4 linked regions of the Homo sapiens genome follow. The protein of the gene in region 4 interacts with the protein of the main gene of each other region in a pairwise test. Each region holds a gene or a part of one and is shown on either strand. Other genes may lie near its edges.

The links.
Region 1: the proteins of NUDT3 (region 4) and REEP5 interact in a two-hybrid assay, tested with the Homo sapiens proteins (one large-scale study listed by BioGRID and IntAct).
Region 2: the proteins of NUDT3 (region 4) and CHCHD3 interact in a two-hybrid assay, tested with the Homo sapiens proteins (one large-scale study listed by BioGRID and IntAct).
Region 3: the proteins of NUDT3 (region 4) and TUBGCP4 interact in a two-hybrid assay, tested with the Homo sapiens proteins (one large-scale study listed by BioGRID and IntAct).

The regions. Positions count from the first base shown.
Region 1 is NC_000005.10:112,898,151-112,901,743, forward strand, and holds part of REEP5 (receptor expression-enhancing protein 5), read right to left. Parts: intron 222-3,593; exon of another isoform or gene 1-221. UniProt on the Homo sapiens protein: Plays an essential role in heart function and development by regulating the organization and function of the sarcoplasmic reticulum in cardiomyocytes.
Region 2 is NC_000007.14:132,977,509-132,981,101, forward strand, and holds part of CHCHD3 (MICOS complex subunit MIC19), read right to left. Parts: intron 1-3,593. UniProt on the Homo sapiens protein: Component of the MICOS complex, a large protein complex of the mitochondrial inner membrane that plays crucial roles in the maintenance of crista junctions, inner membrane architecture, and formation of contact sites to the outer membrane.
Region 3 is NC_000015.10:43,398,529-43,402,121, reverse strand, and holds part of TUBGCP4 (gamma-tubulin complex component 4), read right to left. Parts: intron 3,011-3,593; coding exon of another isoform or gene 2,995-3,010; exon of another isoform or gene 2,948-2,994; intron 2,079-2,947; coding exon 1,901-2,078; intron 407-1,900; coding exon 272-406; intron 1-271. UniProt on the Homo sapiens protein: Component of the gamma-tubulin ring complex (gTuRC) which mediates microtubule nucleation.
Region 4 is NC_000006.12:34,288,170-34,291,669, reverse strand, and holds part of NUDT3 (diphosphoinositol polyphosphate phosphohydrolase 1), read left to right. Parts: intron 1-2,738; coding exon 2,739-2,917; 3' UTR 2,918-3,500. Other genes in the region: RPS10-NUDT3 protein, read left to right, coding at 2,739-2,917. UniProt on the Homo sapiens protein: Cleaves a beta-phosphate from the diphosphate groups in PP-InsP5 (diphosphoinositol pentakisphosphate) and [PP]2-InsP4 (bisdiphosphoinositol tetrakisphosphate), suggesting that it may play a role in signal transduction.

The sequences.
Region 1 (3,593 bases), on a different chromosome or scaffold from region 4:
ATGGATTCTAGTCCCTAAAATTCAATACTCTCCTGAACCTTCTCCTACAGACGAGACTCTGCAATTCAGAGGCCTCTTCTCAGTCTGTTCACTAGGTCATTCAGAGTATGCCACTAATGTAGGAAGAAAGTATTTTGATTGACAGCATCATGAATGTTTAATCCTTTCAAGTATGTTATCTATTTGGAATGTATGCAATAAATTCACTTTCATGAACACTATGATGCCATGCAGCTGGAGACTACTAATGGATGCACATTCATTTTACCATTAGGGAAGAAAGTCTGCTACAAAGCAATATTTTAAATGAACTTCAAAACCAAATATAAATGATTCAGTGACTACCATTTATTTTGGATCTTCTCTCTACCTCTCTGTGAACTCCATTAGCAGAGGTGATTAGGAGTAGGCTAGAAGTCAAGCTTGCTCACATTTGGAAGTCTGAGGTCAGAACTACTGCAAGTAGTTCTGCTGACAAGATAGTGTTCACTGCCACAAGCAAGTGGGCCCAAAGCAAAAGCCAATTTCTTTCCACTAAAGACTACTGTGAGGTCCCTACGATTAGATGGATCTTATTAAGGGCTTTAAAATTATCTGAAGTTTAAATTATGTCATGTCCAAATTAAAGATTGTAAGAATATTTTTATAAATGTTAAATGACTTTGAATAATAAAAACAAAAAAATCCAATCTTTGAAATCAACTCTTTCCACAGACCAATTTTTATTTTCTTCCATCAGTTTTGAAAGGAAAATTCTTAATTGCCTTACAAGGCATTCTGTGGTGAAGTCATTCAAAAATATAAAAGAATCTATACTGAGCATGTTTTCATTTAATTTTTTAAACTTTAAAAGACACTCACTTCATATAGTGTCTTGTCTTTTTTCTTTTTTAACCATAAATGGTGTGATACTGTATTTAATGTTCTATTACTTTTTTTCTTTTTCGAGACAGGGTCTCACTCTGTCACCCAGGCTAGAGTGCAGTTGGGTGATCATTGCTTATTGTAGCCTTGAACTCCTGGGCTCAAACCATCCTCCCACCTCAGCCTCCTGAGCAGATGGGACCACAGGCATGCACCACCATGCCTGGCATTTGTTTTTTGGTTTTCGGTTTTTTTTTTTTTGGTCAACATGCTGTGATCTGGGAGCCTGGTTAATTTTTAAATTTGTGTGTGTGGAGACAGGGTCTCACCATGTTGCCCAGGATGGTGTCAAACTCCTGGCCTCAAGCAGTCCTTCTGCCTTGGCCTCCGAGTATGCTGGGATTACAGGCAAAAGCTAGCACAACTGTCCTGTATAACTTTTCATAATTACTAAATTATGCAAAAATTTCTGGGTCTGTACATATGGATCTATTTCATTCCATTTAACTGTATGGATATACTATTAATTGAATGAACCATTTACCTGCTGATGGACATTTCTGTTTATAATGTTTACATTATGCAGTTCATATTATATACAGTTGACAACAAAAAATGCTGCCATGAATATCTTTGTGCAGCTCTTTAATGCACAGTGACTATTTCCTTAGAATTGTTAAGAGTATCATTTTTCAATTCAACAAGAAATGGTTAAAAGGTCCCTTAAAAAGGTTATTCAAGTTTATACCACTAGGCTGTTAAGTATCCCTTATGTGAAATGCTTGGGACTAAAAGTGTTTCGGGTTTCACATTTATTCAGATTTTGGAATATGTACATTATACCAACTGAGCATACCAAATCAGAAACTCTAAAATCTAAATGCTCCAATGAGCATTTCCTTTGATCATTATGTGGGCACTCAAAAAGTTTGGGGTTTTAAAGCATTTAGGATTTCCAATTTCAGATGTTCAGCCTGTACCATTACATGTCCATTTCCCTATACATTCACCAATACCAGATATTTTCAATCTTTAAAATATCTGCCAGTTTAATGAACAAAATATGGGATTTCACTATTTTAACTCACACTTCCCACATCACTGGTGAGCTGTTTACTAGCCATTCATATTTTTTCTCTTCCGTGAAATACTTAACTTAGAACCTTTTCCCATTTTCTTTTTCTTTTTACTTATGGAAATTGTTATGTATTCTGGATATTCCTTATTTGGTGTAAATGTTGTAAATCTATCTTCCTAGTCTGTCATTATTTTAACTTTGTTTATGCTGCCCACTGTCATATAGAAATTTAATTTTTAGAAATTTTTAGTTGAATTTATCAAATCTTTTTCTTTGAAACTTTTGTATTTTGTCTTGCTTCTATACCTCAAAGTTAAAAAATATTGTCCTCTACTTTTTTCTAAAACAGAGGTTTTGGCATAAAAGTCCTGTCTTTGCAAATCACTCAGGAAAACAGGTGGACACTAACTAAAGGCAGTTACTTCCCTACCCCTCCTGCTCCAACCCCTAGAGCTGTGAACTATAACCCAGGATCACTTCCTTTTGATGCTGCTTTGCTGGGGTAGAAGGGGACTGTACAGTGAAGCTTTGACCTGAGGAGCTCTTCTGTAGGTGAAGAGTGGTTAACTATGGTTCCTGTGTGCCTGGGGCCCCCCACTCCTAGGACTCATCCACCCCCTACCCAGAACTTACTAGTACTAGCATGGACTGGGGCCCCCTCCATTCCAGTGCCTGATGGGATAGCTGATACTCATGGATGAAAAGCAGTTTGTAGGCTAAAATAAAAAGATATTTTAAGAATATATTTCTTTTTTTTTTTTTAGAGATGGAGTCTGGCTCTGTTGCCTAGGCTGGAGTGCAGTAGTGTGATCTCGGTTCACTGCAACCTCTGCATCCCAGATTCAAGCAGTTCTCCTGCCTCACCTCCTGAGTAGCTGGGACTACAGGTGCACTCTGCCACACCCAGCTAATTTCGTTTGTATTTTAGTAGAGACAGGGTTTCACCGTGTTGCCCAGGCTGGTCTCGAACTCCTGAGCTCAGGCCATCTGCCCGCCTCGGCCTCCCAAAGTGCTAGAATTGCAGGCATGAGCCACCACGCCTGGCCAAGAGTACATTTCAAAAGAAAAACAACACAATCAACTACAAGTTTTGGTCAGGAGCAACAATATTAGAACTGCTGACCAAGAATTTTAAACTGGGGAGCGGTAACCATACTAAAAGAAATGAGAAAATATTAGCAATATGAAACAAGGACAAGAAGAAGAGAGCCAAGCAAAAACATTAGGTGTGAACAATATAATAGTTGAAATGAAGAACACGGTATATAGCAGGAATAACAGAATGGTTATAATGTAATCATGGAGTACAGTTGAAAATTAGATGGTCAGATTGAGTCCGGGCACGGTGGCTCACGCCTGTAATCCCAGCACTTTGGGAGGCCGAGGTGGGTGGATTGCTTAAGGTCAGGAGTTCGAGAGCACCCTGGCCAACATGGTGAAACTCTTTCTCTACCAAAAAAAATACAAAAATTGACCAGGCGTGGTGGCACATGCCTGTAATCCCAGCTACTCGGGAGGCTGAGGCAGGACAATCACTTGAACCCAGGATGCGGAGGTTGCAGTGAGCGGAGATTGTACCATGGCACTCTAGCCTGGGCAACAGACCAAGAGTCCATCTCAGAAAAAAAAAAAAGGAGGTCAGATTGAGAAA
Region 2 (3,593 bases), on a different chromosome or scaffold from region 4:
AACGCATTTGTATGGACATCTTACCCCTAAGTAAAAAAGCATTACCTATTTTTACCAGTGAGGTGGAAACTAAAATAAAATAATAAAATTACTATCATTTATGGATCAACTACTAAGCACTGTGCTAGGCACTTTACAAACATATATAAAATGTTTATTCAAATTCTATTATTAGTTCATGAACATAAAATGAATTCTGTTCAACTGAATTATCACATCTACCACATTTGGTGTATCTAATTTTAAAGTACTGTTTAAAAATTACTACTTTTTTTTTCCATTTTAGTTTACTTATGTATGGCTTAGATTTTAATTACATATGGAGTTCTACATGGTTCAACTTTAAGAAATACAGGATCATAAGGATTTTGGCAAGTTAATGAAAAAGAAGCAAAACATGAGCACAAAAGCCTTCAATGTGATAATAAAAATAAACATATTTAGCTTGCCATGACTGGTACAGATATGCAAACTCTGGGTCCAAATCAAGGCTCTAAACTTCCTATCTGAATAAGTACTTTATTTAATCTCCGGTGAGTCCTGTTATTCTCATGGGTAAAATGAAATAGTGTAATACCTACCTTACAGCGTTCTATATAAACAAGGCACTCAGCACAATGCCCATAACATAATATACACTCAATAAATGTTAGGTAAGTAGCAGTAATAATAATAGTACCCACTATGCGGGTAGGAATACAGAGAAAGCAGTGATTTTACGAAATGAAGAAGACAATCTCCAAATTCACTAACTACAATGCCATCTCCATCATCTTTTCCAATTTTTCACCAATAAATTCTGCTTTATTTTTATGATCTCTAAGGACTTCTAAAATCACAAATTGACTCTACTAACTCCAGCAGCTAGACCCTTTCACAAGCTGCTTCCTTTCCCTCTTGTCCATAGCTCCATAAGGACAACGATTTGCCCTATTTTTGTTCACTGCTATATCCCCCATACTTATAAAAGTGCCTGCCACATATCAAACACGCAAGAAAAAGTTGTTGATGTATGCATGTGTGAATGAATGAATGAATAAATAAATAAATGGCATATTTCTAACCACAAACAAAACAAGGAAAACAAACTGCAAAAGAACACAAGGCGATGGTATATAAGAAACAACTAACGAGACAAACTGTATCCTCCAAGGGCTTAGCCACCATGTTAGATGTGGCACATCTGTGATATAATCCCAGGCTACATTAAATAGCCTACAACAGGAGGTGCCACAACAGTCCAGAGCCCCTCCAACATCAACACCTAACTATATTTGACACCTGGATTGAAAGAGGATTGGCAGTGGTGCAAACTGACTAAAAAGAATATTATTTTCCTTTCTTAATAAATTCTTATACTTTCATTCATCCTTACAAATAGAACTGCACAAATTCTCAAATGTTTTTAAAGGAATGTTTATAAATTTTAAAAAAACTTTTTTTAAGGTCTGTATGGTGACTGTTTAAGAAACCAAATTTTTTGTCATCAGGGAGTTTGGCAGTAGGACTCTGAACAAATTCTCATTTCCTATCAACAACTTAGCTGTACAATCTAATAAGCCTCAGTTTCCTCAGTTTTAAAATTTGAAGGTTGAACTACTATATAATCTTATGGTCCTTTGCATATAAACATTCTAAAAAGTCTATACCTTAAACATATTATTCCTCATTCCATAAAAAATCTTGAAAAAGGTGGTGGCAGGGGATAAATAAAACAGAGGGGCATTATATTATCTCCCAGCTTGATACTGTTATAATTTCTACTCGATGGGCACATATACTTCTACTGTAATCCTGAGATTTCTCACTACAGTACTCAACAAAAACTACACACTGGAATTCATAAATTTATTCAGTATATAATTACTAGGTGAAAGGGACTACTCTGGTTACTGAGAATGAAGTAGTGAGCAAGAGACACAGTCCCTACTTTCATGAGCCATGATTACAAATAACAGATGCATTATTTTTAAAAAGTTAGGTAGGTATCTATGACACTGCATGGGTGGGACTGATATTTAACTTGAGCTCTACAGGACATTAACTGAGCAACATGGGGAAGGAGAAAGTGTCTTAGGCAGAGGAAACATCAGTTGGGTCCAGAAGCACCAAGAAAGGATTTCCTTCAGTTAGATTCCTGTGACACTTAGAAGGGTCTCTGAGGCATGAAATCACCTCTGCAAAGAATTTTACTTGCTTTCAGATTCTCTTGGAGGACAGAGTTTCAATGGTATACTGACTGAGGTTCAGTTTTGACCAGTGCCCAAAGATGAGAAGCTTCTAAGTTGTACCATTTCCCATTTAAAAGCAATAGATTTGAAACTTCAAAATTGTACCATTCTCCATTTCCCCAACCCTCCCCTCCAAAATATTGCATGGCAATTATTTTCTTCTAAGTTTCCTCTTTCAATGGTTCCTGTAAATTCTTTACTGAGCCAAAACCACTTTGCAAAGAAAAACTGCTTATGTTTTCAGAAACCCCCAATTACTTTCAAAGCTTCCTCTCTGGCCCCTTGGTTTTATACCGCATGGAGCTATACTATTCAACAGCCATCTGCAAAAGGTAGATGAGCTGTCAACCAATTTTTCTCTTTTTGAACCAAATAAGACAGCCCTGCCATCTGGGCCTCTCTGAAAACTACTGCCCAGATAGTGGAGCTATAAAATCAGAAGCCATGTTGTTTTGGGAACACTTCACTAAGGAGAGAAGACCCAGGCTCTCACTGACCAAGGGAAGGCAGGACTTTATATGTAAAGGCAGGAGATAAAATAAGTCTCTCATTATTAACTTGGGTTTCCAAAGATTTAAGAATTATCTCAAAACAAAACTAAACATGCCAAGTATCTTAGAGAATACATTCCTTTTTTATTTATTGGCATTTCCCACTTAATATTTTAGATCTCCTGCTCTAATATATTCTACATTAAGTCCCTGATTTAAGTTTCATTTAAATTTCTTTCTTTTAAATACATATCTCTCCTCATTTAAATTCTCTAGAGTTTCAAGCAAAGAAGTAGGAGTTTAGTGTAAACTTTTCTTGTTTGCATTAAGTAATTGGATAGCTTGCCTAAGCTTAATGAAACAAATACCAGTCAGTGCTGCCCTTAGACCTCAAGCCCTAGCAACTTAGCTCTTTCCTCAGTATATTGTCAATCAGGCGAGGGACTTAAGGTACACCAGCAAAATGAATTCCTAAAAGCCAGCCAAATCTCCTATAATAAATATTATTACATGTCCTTTTAAATGGGAAAACAAATTAACTACTTATAAAACATTCAACTTTCATGGACAGCAGGTATAAAATCTAGTTCTCTATATTTTAGTCCCAGGGTAAAAACTAGCCAGTTTGACTTTACTCTAAAGAACCTCAAGTTTTTAAGAAAGTAGAAAGAGAATTTTAAAGATAACTTTAGCAAGGCATTAACATATTGAACTTCATTCACCTCCATAAGGGAGGCATTACTAGCTCTAGTTTTTTTGTTTTTTGTTTTTTTGAAACATGGTCTTGCTCTCTTGCCCAGGCTGGAGTGCAGTGGCATGATCTCGGCTCACTGCAACCTCTGCCTCCCAGGCTCAAGCAATCCTCTTGCCT
Region 3 (3,593 bases), on a different chromosome or scaffold from region 4:
CTTCTGTATTTTTAGTAGAGACGGGTTTTCACCATGTTGGCCAGGCTGGTCTTGAACTCCTGACCTTGTGATCCGCCCACCTCGGCCTCCCAAAGTGCTGGGATTACAGGCATGAGCCACCATGCCCCGCCGCTTTACACATTCTTAAAAAATGTTTTAAAATGGACTTGAATAATTGCTTAATGATGGTTTCGTATCCTGTCAACTCAAACTGCCTAAGGGAATGGTCAGTGGTAGAAGCAGTCTGAGGAAACCAATGAGCCTTACTTACAGGTTTCAATAGGATAAAGGATTGAGCCAGCAAATTGCTCAGGAAGTGGTCATGAGCCAATCGGATGCTTTCAAAGTCTCGGGTAGAATTGATCTGATGAAGCAGCTGGGAGAACTGAGACTCCAACACATCTACCTGATAGACATTACAAAAAATTTTAGCACTTTGCATATTCTAAGCACTCGAAGACATTAAGATGCCTGACAGATTGAAATGAAAATGCTTTGCCTCCACTCATCTTCCTTCTAACCAAGTCACATTAAGGCTGACCAAAGACACCCTTATATTGCCCAGCCTTGTAGGAAGTTATTTGCATAATTCTGAACCCCCTCCCTCCAACGTCCTGGCTGACCACTCTCCCCTGCCCCATCCTTTTCTCTTTTTCCTTTTTTTTTTTTTGAGACGGAGTCTTGCTCTGCCACCCAGGCTGGAGTGCAGTGGTGCGATCCTGGCTCACTGCAACTTCCACATACCAGGGTTCAAGCAATTCTCCTGCCTCAGCCTCCTGAGTAGCTAAGATTACAGGTGCCCGCTACCACGCATGGCTAATTTTTGTATTTTTAGTAGAGAAGGGGTTTCACTATGTTGGCCAGGTTGGTCTCGAACTCCTGACCTCAGGTGATCTGTTTGGCTCAGCCTCCCAAAGTGCTGGGATTACAGGTGTGAGCCACTGCGCCCAGCCTCCCCTGCCCCATCCTAATCCACTCATGGCCACATTCCGTCTACTGACTGACTTGGTCACCTACAGGATTCCAGAAGTTATAGCAAACAATAAAAATAAGGGGCAAGTCAACAATAAATAATAGATTGTTGATGAGGATTCTTTAAAATGCCTTTAAGAGGCTGGTGTGGCGGTGGTTCATGCCTATAATCCCAGCACTTTGGGAGGCAAAGGCAGGAGGATCATTTGAAGCCTGGAGTTTTTTTTTTTTGGAGACGGAGTCTCACTCTGTTGCCCAGGCTGGAGTGCAATGGCATGATCTTGGCTCACTGCAACCTCCACCTCCCAGGTTCAAGCGATTCTCCTGCCTCAGCCTCCCAGGTAGCTGGGACTACAAACAGGCGCCACCACGCTTGGCTAATTTTTTTGTATTTTTAGTAGAGATGGTGTTTCACCATGCTGGCCAGGCTGGTCTCAAACTCCTGACCTCAAGTGATCCGCCCATCTCAGCCTCCCAAAGTGCTGAGATTACAGACGTGACCCATGACACCTCGCTGAAGCCAGGAGTTTGAGACCAGCCTGGGCAACAAAGTGAGAATCCATCTCTACAAAAAATAAAAACAAACCAGCTGGGTGTGGTGGCATGTATCTGTAGTCATAGCTACTTGAGAGGCTGAGGCAGGGGGATCACTTGAGTCCAGGAGCTTGAGGCTTCAGTGAGCTATGACTGTACCACTGCATTCCAGCCTGGGAAACAGAGAAAGACCCTGTCTCTAAAAAATAATAAAATAAAATAAAATAAAATGCTTTTTTTATTTTAAGAAACATGCTTGGTGATATAACTCCTGAATTTTCCCAAACCCCACCATTTTATCAAATAGAAACTTGTAGTCCCTATTCAATACTCCCTGCCAACCTCCTAGACGTTTTTCCGTACCCCTTCCTTCTACTCATCTCTTAGCACAGACCTGGAGATAGTACTGAAGATTATCCACCAAAAATGCCATGTGATTTCTTAGGCGCCACTTGATTGCATCAGTCTGGTTCGACTTGAGGTGCTTGCGCTGCATTTGTAGGGCCCAGCAGTGCTGCAGCTCAGCTTGCACCCGGCGCACACTCAGTAAGTACTTAAAAACAACATTGTACCTAGGACAGAAATAACAGGATATTCAAGACAAAAATTTCATCCCCTGCACTTCCCCCACACGACAGACTCTAGGACTTTGTGCCACCCACTCCTCTCACAAACAGGCAGTAAGGAAAGAGTGACTAGAGATGTAGACAAATAAATTATAATTTATTTATACAATGGAATATTATATAGCAGTCGAATGAACTCCAGCTATACAACAAGATGAGACCCCATCTCTGCATTTTTTAGATAACTTGGGAAATTTCAGTGTGGACTGGATATTAGATTATACCCTTATAATCTTTTTGAATGGTTGACTCGTGTTGCTTCTCATATTCAAAAACATGATTTTTGAATGAAAAAGGTAAATCACAAAAGATTACATATAGCCTTTTCTATAATTCTTAAAGCAGGCCAGGTGTGTTGGCTCATGCCTATAATCCCGGCACTTTGGGAGGCCAAGGCAGGAGAATTACTTAAGCTCAGGGGTTCAAGACCAGCCTGAGCAACATAGTGAGATGCCATCTCTACTAAAAATTAAAAAAATTAGCCAGGTGTGGTGGTGCCCACCTATAGTCCCAGCTGCTTGGGAGGTTGAGGCAGGAAGATTGCTTGAACCCAGGGTTCAAGGCTGCAGTGTGCTGCCTGGGCAACAGAGCAAGACCCTGTCTCAAAAAAAATAGTGTGTTATGAATCAAGGATTATGATGAATCTGATTCTCTGTCGCTGAGAGCCGAAAGAAAGTAAAATAGCTTCCCTCTGAGACAGACTCCCGCTCCTGCCTCCCTGCAAGTTCAGGTGCTAACTGCTTAATGCTGAGACTCCATACTTAAAAGACACACGGGAAGAACAGCTGATTCCTGGTAGAATAGGATTTATTTACCTGTTTGTAGGTAGGCTTGCAGAAGACAGTCCCATTCTGTTTGGTTTTTAAAATTGTCTATTTCTAAAGGAACAAACATAATGAAATGATAGACCTTGTTTGGAAACTGATTTGAACAAACCCAAACATAAAGATAATTTTTAGATAACTGGAGAAATTTCAATGTAGACTGGATATTATAAGGGATTATAAGGGACTACTGTTAATTTTACTGGATGTGATAATGGCATTGTAGTTCTGTTGAAATATGCCTTTTTCAATTGTTTATTGGCAGAATGAAATGACTGTGATTTGCTTTATACAGCTCTAGCAAAAAAGTGGGGGAGGGACAGATAAAAGTAGTATAATGTTGCTGGTTACTGAAGGTGAATAATGAGGACACAGGATTTTGTCTTCTCCCCAGTGGCTAACATCCATAGCAGACATGTAGGCTGGAGGACTTTCCCAAGTAAATCAACAAAAAATATTACAAAAGTGAGGGAGAGACCTTGTCAGGTGTGATGGAATCATCAAGGGCCATTATCTCGACATGGTGCCTAAGACCTTATTTTCCAGAGCTCACAAACTGGCAGCCAACAAACTGCTTATTATTTGGCAATTTAAAAAAATGATGGTTTGAAGTAGATATGCCCTCCCACTGATTCCA
Region 4 (3,500 bases):
TTAGCCAGGCATGGTGGCACACACCTGTAATTTCAGCTACTCAGGAAGCTGAGGCAGGAGAATAACTTGAACCTAGGAGGTGGAGGTTGCAGTGAGCCAAGAATACACCAATGCACTCCAGCCTGGGCAACAGATAAGACTGTTTCAAAAAAAAAAATTTTTGTCAATGTTAAAGAAAAGCTAATATTGGCAGGAATGTGGTGAGACTGACATCCTGACATACACAAGCAGGACTGGGGATCAGTGTCGCCTTTCTGTAAAGCACTTTTGCAGTATAAATCAGGAGCCCTTGAAAGTTCAGAAGCTCTATTTTTGTAGTTCTTGTGCTAGATATCTTTCCCTAGAAGGTTAAAAAGAAAGAAAAAACGGGGAACGTTTTAAAAAAATAGCATTATTTATAATAATTAAAATCACTGGGCATGGTGGATCACGTTTGTAATCCCAGCACTTTGGGAGGCCAAGGCGGGTGAATCACTTGAGGTCAGGAGTTCGAGACCAGCCTGTCCAACATGCTGAAACCCCATCTCTACTAAAAATACAAAAATTAGCTGGGCGTGGTGGTGTGCACCTGTAGTCCCAGCTACTTGGGGGCTGAGGCAGGAGAATTGCTTGAACCCGGGAGGCGGAGATTGCAGTGAGCTAAGATAACGCCACTGCACTCCAGCCTGCATGACGGAGTGAGCCTCCGTCTCAATAAATAAACAAAAATTAGCTGGGTGTGGTTGTGGGCGCCTGTAATCCCAGCTACTTGAGAGGCTGAGCCATGAGAATTGCTTGAGCCTGGGAGGCAGAGGTTGCAGTGAGCCGGGATCACATCGCTGTACTCCAGCCTGGGTGACAGACTGAGACTCTGTCTCAATAATAATAATAATAATAATCACAGACAATTGATGTCCAGTGATATGGAAATGCTTAAGTGAATGATAATACATCCATACTAGATACTATGACATAATGCAGCCATAAATGTCTTAAAAAAAAAGACAGTCTCACTCTGTTGTCCAGACTGGAGTACAGTGGCATGATCACAGCTCACTGCAGCCTCAACCTCCTGGGTTCAAGCAGTCCTCCTGCCTTAGCCTTTCTAGCAATGGCAATGTCTCATATTTTTTTCATAATATAGATTGCTTAAGAAATAGTGTGACATAGGACAGGTGTGGTGGCTCATGCCTGTAATTCCAAGTACTTTGGGAGGCTAAGGCAGGAGGATCACTTGAGGCCAGGAATTTGAGACCTCATTTATACCAAAAAAAAAAAAAAAAAAAAAAGAAGCAGCAGCAGGTGTGGCACGTGCTTGTAGTCCTAGCTACTTGGAAGGCTGGGGCAGGAAGATCCCTCGTGTTCGGGAGCTTGAGTTTGCAGTGAACTATGATCATACCACTGCAATCCAGCCTGTGAGATCCTATCTCTGGAAAAAAAAAAAAGAGAGAAAGAAAAAGAAAAGAAAAAATAACATGAAGTAAAAACCAGTAACAAAAATTAAAAAGCAAATTCAGCAGCACATTCTTTTAGCAGCCAGTTACTCTTCAGGTGCTTTCCATACTAATAGTCATAACAGACTTGTGAGATAGGCCCTATTTATTGTCTGTTTTATAGATGAGGAAAATGGAGCAGGAACACAGCTACCTGAGGCTGCACAGCTCATTGGAGCCATTTATGTGATTGGAGCCCAGCACTTTGGCTTCAGAGTCCTTGTTCCTGACCATAACACTCTAGCAGAGCTGGTCAGGATTCAGAGTACCTGAAAGCATGATCCAATTTTGGTTGTCTCAAGATTGTTTCTTTTTCAAGTATATGAAAAAAGGGCAGTTGTGCTAGGGTATTGAGAGTGGTTTTTTCTGGTTTATAAGATTATGGGTAGTTATTACTTTTATAAGATAAAAAATATAAAGGATTTTAAAGCATGGACTAGAAAAGAGTAAGAAAATAGACTGAAAAATAAAAGTGTGATTGTATTGAGATTATTTTTACTTCTTTTAAGAAATATTTTCTATTATGTAGATAAATTCACTCTTATAAGAAAACTTTTAAATGAATTACTGATTACAAACCAGCCATCCTAGTAATTCTGGAAGCTGATGCTCGTGTTGATTTTTCCCCCCTTGGGACAGGGTCTCACTCTGTCACCCTGCTGGAGTGCAGTGGCGCGATGACAGCTCACTGCAGCCGCGACCTTCCGGGCTCAGGTGATCCTCCCACCTCAGCCTCCTGGGTAGCTGGGAGTACAGGCACATGCTACCATGCCCAGCTAATTTTTGTATTTTTTGTAGAGACAGAGTTTTGCCATGTTGCTCAGGCCAGTCTCAAACTCCTGGGCTCAAGCGATCCGCCCACCTTAGCCTCCTAAAGTGCTGGGATTGTAGGCGTGAGCCACCTCATCCGGCCCTCATGTCAGTTTTTACAGGAGATGGGGATGCTGCTGGGCTTTGATCCCTATGTATGTGCAAGCAAGGAAAGCTCAGAGACGCAGGAGGGCAGGAGGAAAACACTAGCCGTAGTTCTCTCTGGAGGGCAGGTTTTACACAATTACTCTTAGCTCTTTGGTTTTCAGGTTTCTCACCTTTCTGCATTAGACATTGATATAATATTTGAAGCATATGAAGTGTGCTTGAGTTATTTTTGTAAGGAAAAAAAGTGTTAAGAAACATTGCTTTAATGTTTTCTATATTTTCTCAAAAGTTCTAGGCTCAGAAACCTTATTACTCTTGTACTAGTTTCTTTTCTCTCTGCCTCCACAGGAAGGAAGAGGGAATGGTTTAAAATAGAAGACGCCATAAAAGTGCTGCAGTATCACAAACCCGTGCAGGCATCATATTTTGAAACATTGAGGCAAGGCTACTCAGCCAACAATGGCACCCCAGTCGTGGCCACCACATACTCGGTTTCTGCTCAGAGCTCGATGTCAGGCATCAGATGACTGAAGACTTCCTGTAAGAGAAATGGAAATTGGAAACTAGACTGAAGTGCAAATCTTCCCTCTCACCCTGGCTCTTTCCACTTCTCACAGGCCTCCTCTTTCAAATAAGGCATGGTGGGCAGCAAAGAAAGGGTGTATTGATAATGTTGCTGTTTGGTGTTAAGTGATGGGGCTTTTTCTTCTGTTTTTATTGAGGGTGGGGGTTGGGTGTGTAATTTGTAAGTACTTTTGTGCATGATCTGTCCCTCCCTCTTCCCACCCCTGCAGTCCTCTGAAGAGAGGCCAACAGCCTTCCCCTGCCTTGGATTCTGAAGTGTTCCTGTTTGTCTTATCCTGGCCCTGGCCAGACGTTTTCTTTGATTTTTAATTTTTTTTTTTTATTAAAAGATACCAGTATGAGATGAAAACTTCCAATAATTTGTCCTATAATGTGCTGTACAGTTCAGTAGAGTGGTCACTTTCACTGCAGTATACATTTATCTACACATTATATATCGGACATATAATATGTAAATAAATGACTTCTAGAAAGAGAAATTTGTTTAATTTTTCAAGGTTTTTTTCTCTTTTAATTTGGGCATTT